Regions from separate parts of the Homo sapiens genome. Here region 1 is linked to region 2. A link means that fine-mapping ties the variant in region 2 to the expression of a gene that starts in the linked region. Tissue or cell type: whole blood. Region 2 holds a variant in brackets; the other region holds the start of a gene. All regions are shown on one strand. Distances are between the middles of the regions.

Region 1 (8,093 bases), 49 kb after region 2:
TCTCCTCCATTCCCTATGGGTTCTGTGACCACTGCTGGACCAAGGACGTGGATGACCCTCCCCTAGTCACTCATCCATCCCCTGGCTCCAGAGATGGTCACATGACCCAGGCCTGGCCAGTCAAAGTAGTCTCTCCCCTGGCCACAGTAATTGGTCATGTGATGCAAGCCAGCTTACTAGCACTTTGAGAATGAGTCTCCTGTTGAGCTGGTAGGATGTAAGCCTGGAGCTAATGGCGATCATCTTTGCCACCACCTGGGGAGAGCCTGCTTGGGAATGAAATTAACACAAAGGAAGTCCAACCTGAGAAATGGCCAAATATATTTCCTGATAACATTATGTGGCCCTCTGGATCCAGCCATGCCTGAGGTCTACCCCTGGGCTTTTGGATTATGTGTACAGTTGGTTCATCCCTTTTTCTGCTAATTCGAGTCATGGCTAATTTAACACCCTTTAGAACCTTAAAGAACCATCAGCATCACCCGGGAACTTTTTTAGAAATGCAAAATCTCTACTGCTTTGGATCCTGGGTCAAAAAAAAGAAAAAAAAAAGAAATGCAAAACTTTAGGCCCTGCCCCAGATTTACTAAATCAATCTGCAGTTTAACAAAATCCTCAGGTGATTTGTATGCTCATTGAACTTTAAGAAGCAGTGTTTTAGAACAGGTTCTTAAAAAGGAACAAATAAACTCATTTAACTAAAGTTAACTGATTAAAGAGGATTTGCTAGGGTATTCTTTCCACATCTGTTTGCTTTCTCTGGGAGAATAAGAAGTCATAAGTCAAAGAAAAGCATCTCTCGTGGTGAAATTTCAATCCTCAGGGATAATTAGTTACTGTAGTAACCTCATCACTGGTTTCCAGTCTTGTCCCTCTCCAATTTACCCTCCAAGCTGTGGCCAGAGTGACTATCCTGAATTGCACACCTGCCAAAAAGTCTTAAGTGTCTCCCGGTGGCCTATGGGACAATATCCAGCCTCCCTGGCCTGGCTTCCAAAACCCTACACAAACTGTCCCACTTTCATCTCCAGCCCCTTTTTCCACTCTCCCCCCAGCCTGTGATTTTAAGCTCCATCACACTCTACCTCTCTCCACATAGAACCATGCCTCTAAGCCTTTGTTTATGCTATTCCTTCTGCCTGGAATGTCCTTCTTCCTCTCTGACAAGTGCACACCTACCCATCCTTCAGTCCCCAGCTCTAATGCCCCATTCTCCAGGAAGTTTTCCCCCAGGCAGAAGGCACAGCTCTCTCTGGGCTCCACAAAGCCCTCAATCCCAACCTTAATTGGAGCACAGCACACACCCTGTTGTCATTTTCTGTAGGTCTGTCTCTTGCACATGTCTGGGATCAACTTGAAGGGCAGAGACCAGGTTTGAGTTATTTCTGCATTCCCAGCACCAAGAACAGAGCCATCTCCAGCCTCAGTTCCCAAACCTAGGCTAGAACACTTAGCTCTTGGCAGCAAGTTAAATGGACTGACTGGCACCTTCATTCTCTCGACTTCTTTCTCTTCAAGAACCCAGGGCTATTGGGAGAGCAGCCCGTGTCCCACCCACTGTCATCCAGAAGTGAAAAGCTGGGGACAGTTTAGGCCCTAGATAGTGCTGCCACAGGGCCTGGGCTGTGGGAAACAGGAAGCATTAATTGACCAGAGGAAGCCCCACCCTGGACTCAGCCTCCCTCAGCCATCCAGCACCCAATCCTGCCCTGGACTCACGTGCCCAGAACATCTCGGAAGTCGTAGATGTCTCTAATGTCCTCCGCCTGCTTCCACCTGGGGCCTTCCACTGCCCCCAGCATGGCCCACTGCCCCCCGACCACAGCCAGGGCTCCTGTAAGGAGAATGGAAGGAGGAGACTCAGCAGAGCCCAGCCCTCTGTCTGGGAATTTACTGCAGGCCCCATTCAGTCATTCAACCTGCATTTATTCATCCTTGATTCATCCATTTGACAAAATCATTCAACAAACATTCATTTGTTTATTCAACATTCAGCAAATTCTCATGCCTAGAGAAAAACCTTTCACAGTGGCAGCAAAATTCTTTATTTAACAAAGTCATGCATTCATTCATTCATTTATTCTAGTTCTCTTCCCAGTTTTCCCCCTATCCAAATCCAAGCACCTAGGGAAACCCTGACTTCTGGCAGTACAACAGATAAACCCCCAGAGCAGCTGGTAGAAGCCTGGAGGATCCCCCTGTCCCCAGAACCAGTGATGTCCCCGCCCCACCCTGGGGATTGCTGGGGTGTCTCCTTTCCCTCCTCCTTCCCCCGACTCCCCGGCCTCTCCGAAATCAGGTTTCCAGCAGCCTGGGCTTCCAGCAACATCTCAGCCACATTTTTAAATAGCTCTTTCTGCACTGTTACCACAGCAACAACAGCCACAGCTGGAGCTCCCCAGACCTCTCCCTCCTGACTCCCCATCTGGGTCCCGGGAGCATGAGAAATGGTCCTGCTCACTCTGTCCCTTCCTGGCCCCATCTAACCCTATCCAGCCTGGCCCTTCCTCTGCTGAGGTCTGTCTCATCCAGCAGGAGAGGGTGGGAGTTCTCTCCCATTTATCAGATGAAGAATGGGGAGACTGAGGTTGGAGTTAGGTAGAGGCTGGCTCCAGAGGCCCTAATGACACCTGGCCTGGGGCCCCCAGCTAAGCTTGCTGAGGGCAAAGGCCATCGAATGGCCTTGGCTGGTACTTCCAATATGAAGCCAGAATGGGCCCCATTCAGAGAACACAGCCTCCCAACCCATCCACAGATGAGGCCAAAACAGAGCCCAGCATGCTTTGTGACCTCAGGGAGAGCACTTTCCTTCTCTCTTTTTCTCTAAGGGAGAATGAGGAGAAGGTGCCCTGACTAGGGCCTCTGGTGTGAGATTCCACTCCTGGAACAGGACCTTTTTCCCAGGGGACCCTGCCCACCCATCCAGGGGCAGAATCTTCTAGGAAAGGAGACTCGAGTGTAAGCTCTAGAGGCAGAGTCTGAAACCCACATGGAGGCCTACCAAATACAACCCTCACAGATCCACACACATCCCTGTAGCAGACATGCCACACCAAGCCCCCTCCACAGCCCTGAACTCAAACACCTGCCTCCCAGATCCAGTACGCCTTGTATCCACATCCCGTGACACCTGATCATACATGTACTCCCAGACATCAGCACACATGTCCACACCACACAGTGCCCCAGACAGCCCTGCACCCGAACACCTGCCTGTCCATCCAAACATCCCTCACCCAGCTCCCTCTTACACCCCAAAACACACATCCACCCGCACCCACACAAGATGACACCCAGACACACACACACACACCCTCATATACCAGACGTACCCTACACCCTCCAGCTCCTCTACCCCATCCCCTGGAAGCTCCTGTATTCCAAACCAAACCCCAAGTCCTTACACACCTAACTCCAAACATCCTCAGTACACAATTGTACACCCCCTCCTAACTCTGACTTAAGACCCTGAGAGCCAAATACCAGCACACAAAACACGTGGACACCCCTCTGGAACAAAAAACACACAGATTCCCAGATCCTCCACCCATGTCTGACCCACACGCCTGTCCTAAGACAGTACACTCCGCAAGCCCCCCCACCCCATGGATACCTCCAAATGCCCACGCCCTTCCAGTCAGGCCCAGCTGAAGGCGCTCACACAGGCCCCCTTCTCTATTACCCACTCAGTGTCCCATAGGCCCGCCTGGCACCTGCTGGGCCTGGGACAGAGGTGGAGAAAGGCCCAGCCCTGCCCCTCAGGGTCCAGCCCGCCCGGGAGAGTGCCCAGTGGCCACTCCTTGGGAAAGGATACCCAGAGGCTAGGGGCTCCCACCGCCCCCACGCAGCGCCCAGGGGTGCAGGGATGGGGGGCCCGGCTGTACCTGCGGCTGCCCCGCCGCGGGGCTGGCTGGGAGGCCCGCGGTGGTTGGCGCCGAGCTGTGGCCGCGGTCCTCACCGCTGCGTGCCTGGGCCACCCGCCCGCGCTCTTGCTGGAGCTGGGGCTCGGCTCGGCTCGGCGGCTCTCTCCGCCCGCCTGCGGCTCTGATGTCAGTGGAGGTGGAGCCTGCGGCGGAGGGACCCGGGATTGGGAGGCGAGGCACCGCTCCAAGGCTGGGGAAGGGGCACGGGTGGAGGCCATCTCCCTGCTTCTGGTCAGAGATCTCCTGCTGGACGCTTCCCGCCCTTGGTCTTAAGCGGGGTCCATTTCACAGAGGGGACAACTGAGGCCCGGAGAGATGATTTTCAAATCAGCGGGTGGTCGGAAGCAAAGCAGGATTCGAACCCCGTCTGTCTGAAGCTAGAGGCCGGCCAAACTCACCCTGTGGCCTGGTGGATTTTCTTTCAGACCAGTTCTGCGACCTCCCTTAGGGCTCTGTCTCCCTTCTCCGTGCCCTGAAGGGAAACAGGCCCTGGAACTGCACGGGAGTCTGGTGGGGGATGGGGGAGTGAGGGAGTGGGGAAGGACCGGGCAAGACTAGGCAATGAAGAGAGTGGAGGTGGTCGCAGGGTGTGGGCCCCACTTGACAGGTGGGAAGACTGAGGCCCCGGTTCCTCTGCAAGATGGAGCTGAGGCTTCAGCCCCAGACACTTGCTCCTCAGAGCGGGTGGTGGTGCCTAGAGGTATTGGGGGCAGAGGGAATTGGGGAGGAGGAAGTTAAATCGGGATCCTGAAGGAAACAGGCCAAAAAGGACCGAGGTGTCACGTGACTGGCGGGGCTCCAGAGTTTGATGGCTGGGGTCCAGGTTAGGGGAGAGAGCCTGCAACTAGGACGGCAGGCAAGAGGCCAAAGGTCGGTTTGCTCAAGGCCTTCCTTGGGAAGAAATTTGGTGCCGAGTGGAAAGAGGGGGCGGGGGGAGCAACTCGCAGGAATTGGGGATGGGGCTGAACTGGGGGCAGCCGGAGGAGGCACGTTGCTTGGGACCCCACTCCACCTCCAAGGGCCTCCAAGTGCCACTCCCTACTCCTGAATTCTTGCATGTTCCAGCTGGTGATGGGGAGAGAACAGTGCTTATGCCCAGCTCATTTCCTTTTTCTCTTTCTTTCTTTCTTTTTTCTTTCTTTCTCTTCTTCTTTTTTTCTTTTTCTTTTTTTTTTAAGACAGGGTCTTGCTCTGTCACCCAGGCTGGAGTGCAATGGCATGATCACGGCCCACTGCAGCCTCAAACTCCTGGGCTCAAGTCATCTTCCTACCTCAGCCTCCCATGTAGATGGGACTACAGGTGCGTGCCACCACACCTGGCTTTTTTATTTTTTGTAGAGATGGGGATCTCACTATATTGCCCAGGCTGGTCTCAAACTCCTGGGCTCAAGCAATCCTCCCCAATCAGCTTCCCAAGGTTCTGGAATTACAGGCATGAGCCACTGCACCTGGCCAATTTATTATGCCCATCTTACAGATGAGAGAGGAAGATAGCTGAGGTTCCTGGAAAGGCTTTGGAGTCTAACTGATCCTGGTCATGCTTTACCTCTCCGAACCTCAGTTTCTTACTCGGGAACATGGGAATATTGAAGATTGACTCAGAGTTCTGAGAATTCTATGATATAATGATATGAAGTGCCTAGAACACTATTCAAAACATGAGAGCTAGACTCAGTGTAAACTGAGACTCAGAGAGAGGACTTGATTTGGCCAGGGATGAGGGGTTAAGGGATCCATCTTCCAAATCTCAGTATCTCAGACTCCTTAGTTCATGGAAAAATACATTTCCTGCTCAGGGCTGAGCCCCCACTCTCCCCTATACCCACCAAGCACACCCACTGAGCTAGGGGTTCTTTTACCACAAATTCCTGTTCATCTTGATGACAACACCCCCTGGGTGATAAGATGACCTCTGTCCTTTCGAGGACTTGTACAACTTCTTTTTTTTTTTTTTTTTTTTTTTTTTGAGACAGTCTCCCTCTGTTGCCCAGGCTGGAGTGCAATGGTGCCATCTCGCCTCACTGCAACCTCCGCCTCCTGGGTTCAAGCAATTCTCCTGCCTCAGCCTCCCAAGTATCTGGGACTACAGGCGTGAACCAACACGCCCAACTAATTTTTGTATTTTTAGTAGAGATGGGGGTTTCACCATGTTGGTCAGGCTGGTCTCGAACTCCTGACCTCAGGTGATCCACCTGCCTCAGCCTCCCAAAGTGCTGGAATTACAGGCATGAGCTACCGCGCCCAGCTGACTTGTACAGCTTCTATGGTGTGCTTTACATTTTTCCTGCTTTTGAGCATTTCTGAGAGGCCTCGTGTTTTCTTTTCTTTAACAAACACATTATCTTTACTTTCTTAGTATTTCTATTGAACAAGTGATACATGGTCATTGCAGGAAAATTCCATAATGTATTGAAAACACACACAGACTAACTGATGAGATTCTTTCGCTTCCCAAGTGACAGAATGCCAACCTAAACCAGCTTCATCCAAGAGGAATCTATAGTTCACAATAGCTGGCACAAGATTGCAGGAAAAACACCAGAGATTAGGGGCTTGGAGACTGGAACTGGAGATGTAGTACTCATAGGATTTGCTTTCTCTGTCTTCCCTCCTCTCTCCTTGTCTTGATTTTTCTTCACACGTTGGCCTCTTTTTCTCTCCAGAGTGAACTTCTAGTTGGCAGGAAACATGGAGTGAGGCAGCCCCAGCTTTCCAATTAAACACAGTGGAAGGAAAGCATCCTCCCAATTTCCTATCTCATTCTCAGGGAAGGACTCTGGCTCTGCTTGAGTGATAGAGTGACATGTTCACCCCTTGGCCTCCAAAACTGTTGCCAGGAGAATTAGGGTGCTATATTGAGCAAGTGTACTGTAATGGGCAGCCATAAGGAATGGAAGAGGTATCTTGTCCAAAGGAATTAGGGGTGCGAGGGAGGCAAGAATAACACAACACTCTCAGCCGGGCCCCCACCAACCAGAGACAACCAGTGTTCACATTTTTAGTACAATTCTTCCAGATTTTTTGGATGCGTATACATATACATCCTTCTGCAGCCCCCAGTCCCGATGAGCACATTTCAAAGTACTAATCAAAAAGTGAGTGAAGGGCCAGGCGTGGGGAGGCCAAGGTGGGCAGATCATCTGAGGTCAGGAGTTTAAGACCAGCCTGGCCAACGTGGTGAAACCCTGTCTCTACTAAAAATACAAAAATTAGCTGGGTGTGGTGGCATGCACCTGTATCCCCAGCCACTTGGGACGCTGAGGCAGGAGAATTGCTTGAACCCAGGAGATGGAAGTTGCAGTGAGCTGAGATTGCACCATTGTACTCCAGCCTGGGTGACACGGCAAGACTACATCTCAAAAAAAAAAAAAAAAAGTGGCTGGGTGCGGTGGCTAACGCCTATAATTCCAGCACCTTGGGAGGCTGAGGCGGGTGGATCATGAGGTCAGGAGATCGAGACCATCCTGGCTAACATGGTGAAACCCTGTTATCTTTTGTATTTCTACTAAAGATACAAAAAATTAGCCAGGCGTGGTGGCGGGCGCCTGTAGTCCCAGCTAATCAGGAGGCTGAGGCAGGAGAATGGCGTGGACCCGGGAGGCAGAGCTTGCAGTGAGCAGAGACCACGCGCCACTGCACTCCAGCCTGGGCGACAGAGCGAGACTCCGTCTCAAAAATAAATAAATGAATAATAATTTAAAAAAAGGTGAGTCAAGGAAAGTCAAATGTTCTCAGGGAAAAGGGGGATGATCTTTTCTTCTTTTTTTTTTTTTTGAATGGCTAAACAGTGCAGACATCTCCATCAATTCTTTTATTTATTTATTTATTTATTATTTTTTTGAGACAGGGCCTCACTCTGTCACCCAGGCTGTGGTGCAGCGGCGCCATCATGGCTCACTGCAGCCTTGACTTCCCAGGCTGGAGTGATCATCCCACCTCAGCCTCCGGAGTAGCTGGGGCTGCAGGTGTGTACCACCATACCTGGCTAATTTTTTTTAGTTTTTTATTTTTTGTAGATATCGGGTCTCTACTCCCTCTGTTGCCCAGACTTCTCTGGAACTCTGGAATCAAGTGATCCTCCTGCTTGGGTCTCCCAGAGTGCCGGGATTATAGGCGTGAGCCAGTATGGCTGGCCTCCATGAATTCTTGAACCTGACAGAAAAGAAGCTA
Region 2 (8,103 bases):
GGTGCGATCTTGGCTCACTGCAACCTCCGCCTCCCAGGTTCAAGCAATTCTCCTGCCTCAGCCTCCCAAGTAGCTGGGATTACAGGCATGCGCCACCACGCCCGGCTAATTTTTTGTATTTTTAGTAGAGATGCGGTTTCCCCATGTTGGTCAGGCTGGTCTCAAACTCCCGACCTCAGGTGATCCACCCTCCTCAGCCTCCCAAAGTGCTGATTACAGGCGTGAGCCACGGCGCCCAGCCAAATGGGGATATTAATCACTACTTCAGGGCTATAGTAAGGGTTAAATTAAATGACATATAATACACCTGCCACACAGTAGGCATTTAATTCTGTTACCTAAAGTGTAGTCCATGAGCCAGCAGCATCAGCATTACTTGGGAGTTTGTTAGGCTCTACCCAGACCATCTGGATCAGAATCTGCATTTTAACATGAGCCCCACGTGATCCATATGCACATTACTGTTTGAGAAATAGTGATGTAATAATCATTAGTTCCTCACTTCTCAATTCATCTGCTTCCCCAACAGGACACAGCTGAACTTCACAGTAGCCATTGACTTCACGGCTTCCAATGGTGAGACACGGATGAGTGAAAAAGTCGGAGGTGGGAAGGCACTTCTAAGGGAGTCATTAGGAGTTGGCCTGGATTCCTACCTAGAGATAAGAGTTTACCTACCCAAGAAGCCCAAACTTAGGCAAAACCCAGCCAGGAAAATAGAGTGCAGAAAAATAGATGGGTAGATGGATCATAGAGGGTTGAAAGGATATATAGCTCAACAGGTGGATGAGTAGGCTGATGGATGAGAGAGAAAGGGGGTATAAGGAGAGATGGAGAGGTGAACAGGTGGTGAGTCATGAATGGATGCATAGATCCATGAACAAATGGAGTGGGTACATGGGTTGGTGAGTATAATAGGTTAGACAAGTAGATGCATCGATGGGTATGTGGGTGGACAAATGGACTAAAGTTTAAGTTGGGGAAATAACAAGTAATTAGGGGAAATGCATGAGTGGATAGATCCATATGAGAATAGACAAGGGAATGAATGGAATGGAGAGGGCTGGCTAGCCGGATGGATAAAATAATACTGTTGTATAGATGGGTGGAAAATGAAGAAAAATGGCAAGTAGACAAGTGGGTGGATGGATGGATGGATGGATGGACTGATGGATGGATGAGTGGGTAAGTGGATAGCTGCATAAGAGAATGGAGAGATTGGTGGATAAAGATGTATAAGTAGACTGAAAGATAGATGTATGGCTAGGTAGATGGGTGGATGGATGTGTGGGTAGGTAGGTAAATGGATGAATAGATATAGGGATGGGTGGGTGGATAGATGGATAAATGAACAAATGGATGATTGGGTAAAATAAGGAGGGAGGACATGGGTAGAGGGCAGATAAATGGATATAGGTGGATGAATGCACACAAAGATAAGCAGGTGAACAGATGGATGATCCAGATGATCATGAGGCTGGGGTTCCTGTGTCCCTACAGGGAATCCTCTGCAGCCTACCTCCCTGCACTACATGAGTCCCTACCAGCTCAGCGCCTATGCCATGGCCCTCAAGGCAGTGGGAGAGATCATCCAGGACTATGACAGTGATAAGCTCTTCCCAGCTTATGGCTTTGGGGCCAAGCTGCCCCCAGAGGGACGGATCTCCCACCAGTTCCCCCTGGTATGGTATTGGCCAGAGCTTACCCTCCGTGCCCTGGCATCTGGTTCACCCAAGTTGATGATTTTGTTCTGTTTACATTACTTCAAAGGGCATGTAGAGGAACAGGAAGCTATGAGAGGATAGCAGAGCAGGGAGGGGAGCAGGGCTGGGTTTGGAGGGGAGCATGAAAGGGACTGATGGAAAAAGGAAGGAGTGAGCTGGAATCAGAGCACTCCTGCATGTACCCTGCATGGGCTCAGCCTGGCAGGGCATATTCTTTGACAGAACAACAATGATGAGGACCCCAACTGTGCGGGCATCGAGGGTGTGCTGGAGAGCTATTTCCAGAGCCTGCGCACAGTGCAGCTCTATGGGCCCACCTACTTTGCTCCTGTCATCAACCAAGTGGCCAGGTAAGGGAACTGGGTGGAAGCTGGGGGAAATGAGGGGACCCACATAAGGGATTGACCCCCCAAGGATAGTCAGGAGCACTCTAAGTAATTTAGGATGATTTGAAGTAAACAGGAGAGGCCAGGCATGGTGGCTCATACCTGTAATCCCAACACTTTGGGAGACTGAGGCAGGAGGATCACTTGAGCCTAGGAGTTCAAGACCAACTTAGGCAATTTAGTGAGACCCCATCTCTTTTTTTTTTTTTTTTTTTTTGAGACAGAGTCTTGCTCTGTTGCCATGCTGGAGTGCAGTGGCATGGTCTCGGCTCACTGCAACCTCCGCCTCCCAGATTCAAGCAATTCTCCTGCCTCAGCCTCCCAAATAGCAGGGATTACTGGCGCATGCCACCACACTTGGCTCGTTTTTGTGTTTTTAGTAGAGACGGGGTTTCACCATGTTGGCCAGGCTGGTCTTGAACTCCCAACCTCAAGTGATCCACCTGCCTCAGCCTCCCAAAGTGCTGGGATTACAAGCATATGCCACCATGCCTGGCTCATTTTTTTAAATTAAATATTTAAATTAAAAAAATTAAAGTATACAGGACGATGTGTATAGGTTATATGCAAATACTACACCATTTTATATGACGGACTTGAATATCTGAGGAGTTTGGTATCCACAGGAGTCTTGGAACCAATCCCCCGTGGATACTGAGGGATGACTGTACCTTATTATGCGGCACAAAGGGTGTCAGCAAATTACCCTAACCCCACTGCCTGAGAATGACAAGCTGGGGCTTGAGTTTGGGTAAGAGAGAGAAGAGCCTACAGCACTGTGGTGAAGGCGTACGTTTTAGCATCAGATCTGAGTGGGATCCTTCCTCCACCATTCACTAACCATCTGACCTTAAGCAACTTCGCCTCTTTAAGCATCCATTTCATCCCTGTAAGGTGGTGTCATAATGGATGACAATAGCAGCTTCCTTATAGAGTTATTGCAAGGTTAAAATTAGATAATAGTGTAACAAGTATTAGCACAGTGTCTGGCCCATGGTACATGCTCCATAAATGATAAGTTAAAAACTAGATGAGTGACTGTCCAAATTTTCAGAATAAAACTATACAAAGCAGGCCAGGTGTGGTGGCTCACACCTGTAATCCCAGCACTTTGGGAGGCCGAGGTGGGTGAATCATGAGGTCAGGAGTTCAAGACCAGCCTGGCCAAGATGGTGAAACCCCGTCTCTACTGAAAATACAAAAATTAGCCAGGCGTGGTGGTGGGCACCTGTAATCCCAGCTACTTGGGAGGCTGAGGCAGAGAATTGCTTGAACCTGGGAGGCAGAGGGTGCAGTGAGCCGAGATCACACCACTGCACTCCAACCTGGGCGACAGAGCAAGACTCTGTCTCAAAAAAATATATATATATACATATATATATATATGCACACACACACACAAACCAAAGAAAACCCAGATCATACATCAAATGGCTTAAAAAACCAGAGGGTATTAAAATAAACTTAAAACGAATTTATGAAATGACAGAACTAAAATCAAACATATGTCAATAAACATAAATAAGCTCTGTTTGACCTTAAAAAAGAAAAAGATTATTTGATTGAACAAAAAATAAGCAAACCCCACTTTATAGTAAACAGAAGAAACCCAGCTAACACAAAGCCCCTCAGAAAGCTCAGAAGTAAAAAGATTAAACAAAAAGGGAATAAAAGTGAAAGGATTTCAGTGAGATTTATATGTCCATAGACTTTTTCCCCTAGCGAAGATTTGTTTTTTTTTTAACTTTCCTTTTAAGTTCAGGGGTACATGTGCAGGTTTGTTACATA[AC/A]AAACTTGAGACATGTGACACATGGGGGTTTGTTGTACAGATTATTTCATCACTCAGGTATTAATTCTAGTAGATTTATTTTCTAATTTGCAGTAATGATAATAGATTCTTTAATCATAACCGTAGAAAGTTTCAATAGAGAAATGAAGAAATCACCCTGAATACTGCCCATGGAATGTGGATGTATATACAGTTCTTTTCCTTATGTATCCATAATTATAGTCAAATTATTATACATATAACATTTCACTACTGATTTTTTTTTCACTAATACTGGAACCTGAGCATGTTTTTGTTGTTATTAAGCTGACTTCTTAAATATTATCTTATGCAACTACACTAATTCAAAATTTATTCATTCATTTAGTAAACATTCAGTAAAGGGGCAATGCACCATTGAGTGTGGTGTCCGGAGCCAGACTAGCCAAGTTAACACTCTGGTTCTATCACTCACTAGCTGTGGCTTTGGTCAAGATTCTTAACCTCTCTGCGCCTTATTCCTCATTTGTAAAATGAGGAAAGTAACAATGTCTACTTCATAGGGTTGTTGTGAGGACTAACTAATTAATATATGTCAAGCACCTAGAACAGTGCCTGCCACATCATAAATACTATAGGTGTTCGCTATTACTGTTACTATTATTATCATTATTACTATCCAAAAGGCATCTGCTGTGTGCTCAGTTCTCTGCTGGGGCACTGAAGATTCACAGATGAATCAGATCTAGTCCCTCCCCTTGGGAGCTCCCGCCTTGGTGCAGGAGACAGAAATATAAATAAATCATTACCTTCTGTAGACCAGAGCTTCCCAGACTTTTCTAGCAAGTCGCCTGTCAGCAAAGGCAAGCGACAGCGTCCCTCTGGGGGAATCTGGGGGCATAGCTGAAAGCAGTCAGGCTGAAAATGTCTTTGAAGTTTCCGTATTTCATCTTAAAAATTCATGCAAATTTTATATTCTTCTCACATTGCATCCCTGTTTAATTTAGAGAAAAAAGGTGTTTTAAGTACTTATAGTCTTATGTACTTATAGTCATCTAGCTTTATCCAGCAGATCATGCAGTGAGAACCCACTTAGAGGAGCAGACAGCCCATCTTGGTGGGTGGAGCAGTATCCTAGAGGGAGGGGGTAGGGCATAGGCTCCAGTACCATAAAGGGGACTGCTCAGCTGGGTCTAGAGGACGAGGTAGACTTTATGAGAGAAACAGAAGCAGAGTAGGCCTGGTAGAAGGAATGGCATATGAAAAACAGAGGCATGAAGGGGCAAGTTCATGAAACAGTGAAGAGTTTAATATGACTAGAGTGCGCACTGTGTACAGAGGACTATCCAGATAATGGACTGGGGATAGAGAGTGAGAGAATCAAGAGCTCCAGCTTCAGGCTCAGCTGGTCAGGCATGGGCTTGGACCCCAGCTTCATAACCCCTTGGGGATGTTACTTAATGTCTCTAAGCTTCAGGTTCCTCATTTTAAACATAGGAACTGTTTTTTGTTTTTAGTTTTTTTTTTTTTGAGATGGAGTCTTACTCTGTCACCCAGGCTGGAGTGCAGTGGCACGATCTCAGCTCACTGCAACCTCTGCCCCTGGGTTCAAGCAGTTCTCCTGCCTCAGCCTCATGAGCAGCTGGGATTACAGGTGCGCACCACCATGCCCGGCTAATTTTTGTATTCTAGAAGAGACGGAATTTCGCCATGTTGGCCAGGCTGGTCTCGAACTCCTGACCTCAGGTGATCCACCCCCCCCCGCCACCCGGCCTCCCAAAGTGCTGGGATTACAGGCATGAGCCACTGTCCCCGGCCATAAAAATAGGAACTTTTAAAGCGCCTACCTTATAGAATGGCGGTGAGGATTAAATTAGATCATGTATGTCAAGTGTACATCTGTGATTTTGATGATCACAATGGACTCTGCTGTTTCCCACTCTACAGCCAAGTGAGGCATAGACTGGCCTCCTCTGGCCACTCACCCATTTTCTCAGCTAACTTCCAGATAAAAACAGCCTTGAGAATGCAAGGCATCTACAGAGAACCAAAGATGTACCTCCTGTGCCCCCAAACCCTTCCATGATGCCCATTGTCTTCTACAGTTCTTTTTTTTTTTTAAGAGACAGGTTCTCACTGTGTCACTCAGGCTGGAGTGTAGTGGTACCATTACAGCTCACAGCAGCTTTGAACTCCTGGGCTCAAGCGATCCTCCCTCCCACCTCAGCCTTCCAAGTAGCTAAGACCACAGGTGCATGTCACCACGCCAGGCTAATTTTATTATTTTTTCGTAGAGACAGGGTCTCGCTATGTTGCCCAGCTTGTCTCAAACTCCTAGGCTCAAGGGATCCTCTGATCTCAGCCTCCCAAAGCATTGGGATCTTAGATGTGAGCCACCAGGTCCAGCCTCTCCGCTGTAGTTCTACATGTAACTCCTCGTGGTTTGCACTTGCCATTCTCTTTCTCTGGAACACTTTTCCCTTTACCTTCCCACCACCATCACCACCTGGCTAAACCCAACCCATTTTTCAGGTACTTAGGTTAGATGTTACATCCTCAAAGCCCTAACCTCAATACACTTTAGTAGTTTAATCCTCTCTCTCCCCAAGGACAATATCCTATTCTGCTCCATGCTCAGCACCCAGCGTGGTGCCTGATACACAGTAGGTATGCAATTGCTATTTATGAAATGAGTAAGTGACAGGAAAAGGTACCAAGCCAGGTCTCTGAGGAGGCTGGGGCCAGAACTCAGGAAGTGGGTAGGGGATGTAAAGGAGAATCATGGCTGGCCACAGTGGCTCATGCCTGTAATCCCAGCACTTTGGGAGGCCGAGGCGGGCGGATCACTTGAGGTCAGGAGTTCAAGACCAGCATGGACAACATGGTGAAACCCCGTCTCTACTAGCAATATAAAAATTAGCCGGGCATGGTGGTGGGCGCCTGTAATCCCAGCTATTCAGGAGACTGAGGCAGGAGAATCCCTTGAACCCAGGAGGCAGAGGTTGCAGTGAGCTGAGATTGTGCCATTGCACTCCAGCCTGGGCAACAGAGCGAGACTCTGTCTCAAAAAAAAAAAGAAAAAAACCAGGATCATGACCCACTCCCACTCTGGGCCCTGGGCAAACTGAGCCAAAATTATTTTATTTTATTATTTTACTTTTATTTTTATTTCAGTTGGGGTCTTACTCTGTCTCCCAGACTGGAGTGCAGTGGTGCCATCATGGCTCACTGGGCTCATGCAATCCTCCTGACTCAGCCTCCTGAGTAGCTGAGAGTATAGGCACGCGCCACCAAGCCCAGCTAATTTTAAATTTTTTCGTAGAGACCAGGTCTCACTATGTTGCCCACGCTGTTCTCAAACTCTTGGCCTCAAGTGATCCTCCTGCCTCAGCCTCCCAAAGTGCTTGGATTACAGGCGTGAGCCACCCCACCTGTCCCCAAAGCTATTTTATAATTCTACACCCTCTCCATGCCTTTCCTCACATTTTGAGATCAGGTTTCAATACAGTACTGTCCAATAGCACTTTCTGCAATGATGGAAAAGTTCTGTATCTGTGCAGGCCAATATGGTACTCACCAACCACATGTGGATATGGGGCACTTGAAAGTAGCTAGGGTGGCCAAGGAACTGAATGTTTAACTCTATTTAATTAATTTAAATTTCAATAGCCAAGGCTACCTTATTGGACAGCCACAGCTCCATCCTTTCCAGTCCGCACAGGACTGGAGACTGGAAGTCAAGAGACCAGGGTCTCCCACTACCTTTGTGCCCTCTCTAGGTCTTTTTTTTTTTTTTTTTGAATATGCAAAATAAAGGGACTGGACTCAATGACTTCTGAAGTCCTTTTCAGGTGGAAAAAAAATCTTGGCTTCAAAGACTAGTGAGAGAAGGAAAAGGAGCTCTGGAAGCAGCTGTTAGATTGGCAGGGGGAGGACTGCATGGGGCCCAGCAGCCCAGGCGATGAGATGTGGCTGGCAGAGGGGAGAAGGGAGAGAGAAGAAATGTGGGGGAGAAGGAAGCAAGGAAGCCTTCAGCCTTTGCTCTCGCTCATATATAAACATCAAAATCTTGCCAGGGGTTGATAAATCCCTGAGCGGTCTAAGCTCTGTGCTTCTTCAGCCACGTGGCCCACTCTGCTTCCCTCAATTTCTGACCTCCACACAGGGGAGTTGTTCTTTAGTCCCACTATAGCGCCTTTTTCCTTGCTGTTCCCCCTTCCTAGAA

Evidence for each region. PIP is the estimated chance that this variant, and not a neighbour inherited with it, causes the effect.
Region 1: CAMK1 starts here. The variant in region 2 is fine-mapped to the expression of CAMK1 in whole blood (TOPMed, PIP 0.97).

What each region holds. Positions count from the first base shown.
Region 1 is chr3:9,765,948-9,774,040 of GRCh38, forward strand. CAMK1 (calcium/calmodulin dependent protein kinase I) reads right to left here and starts at 4,000. Exons shown (of 12, transcript NM_003656.5): 1 at 3,885-4,000; 2 at 1,720-1,834. The coding sequence starts at 1,802. It also overlaps a transcript of OGG1 not described here. RefSeq lists a silencer at 3,771-3,950.
Region 2 is chr3:9,716,529-9,724,631 of GRCh38, forward strand. It overlaps CPNE9 (copine family member 9), which reads left to right. Exons shown (of 21, transcript NM_153635.3): 15 at 530-576; 16 at 1,501-1,682; 17 at 1,947-2,074. Among named protein-coding and RNA genes, the nearest start is that of BRPF1, 11 kb to the right of the region's middle. The variant AC/A (reference allele first, on the strand shown) is at 3,899.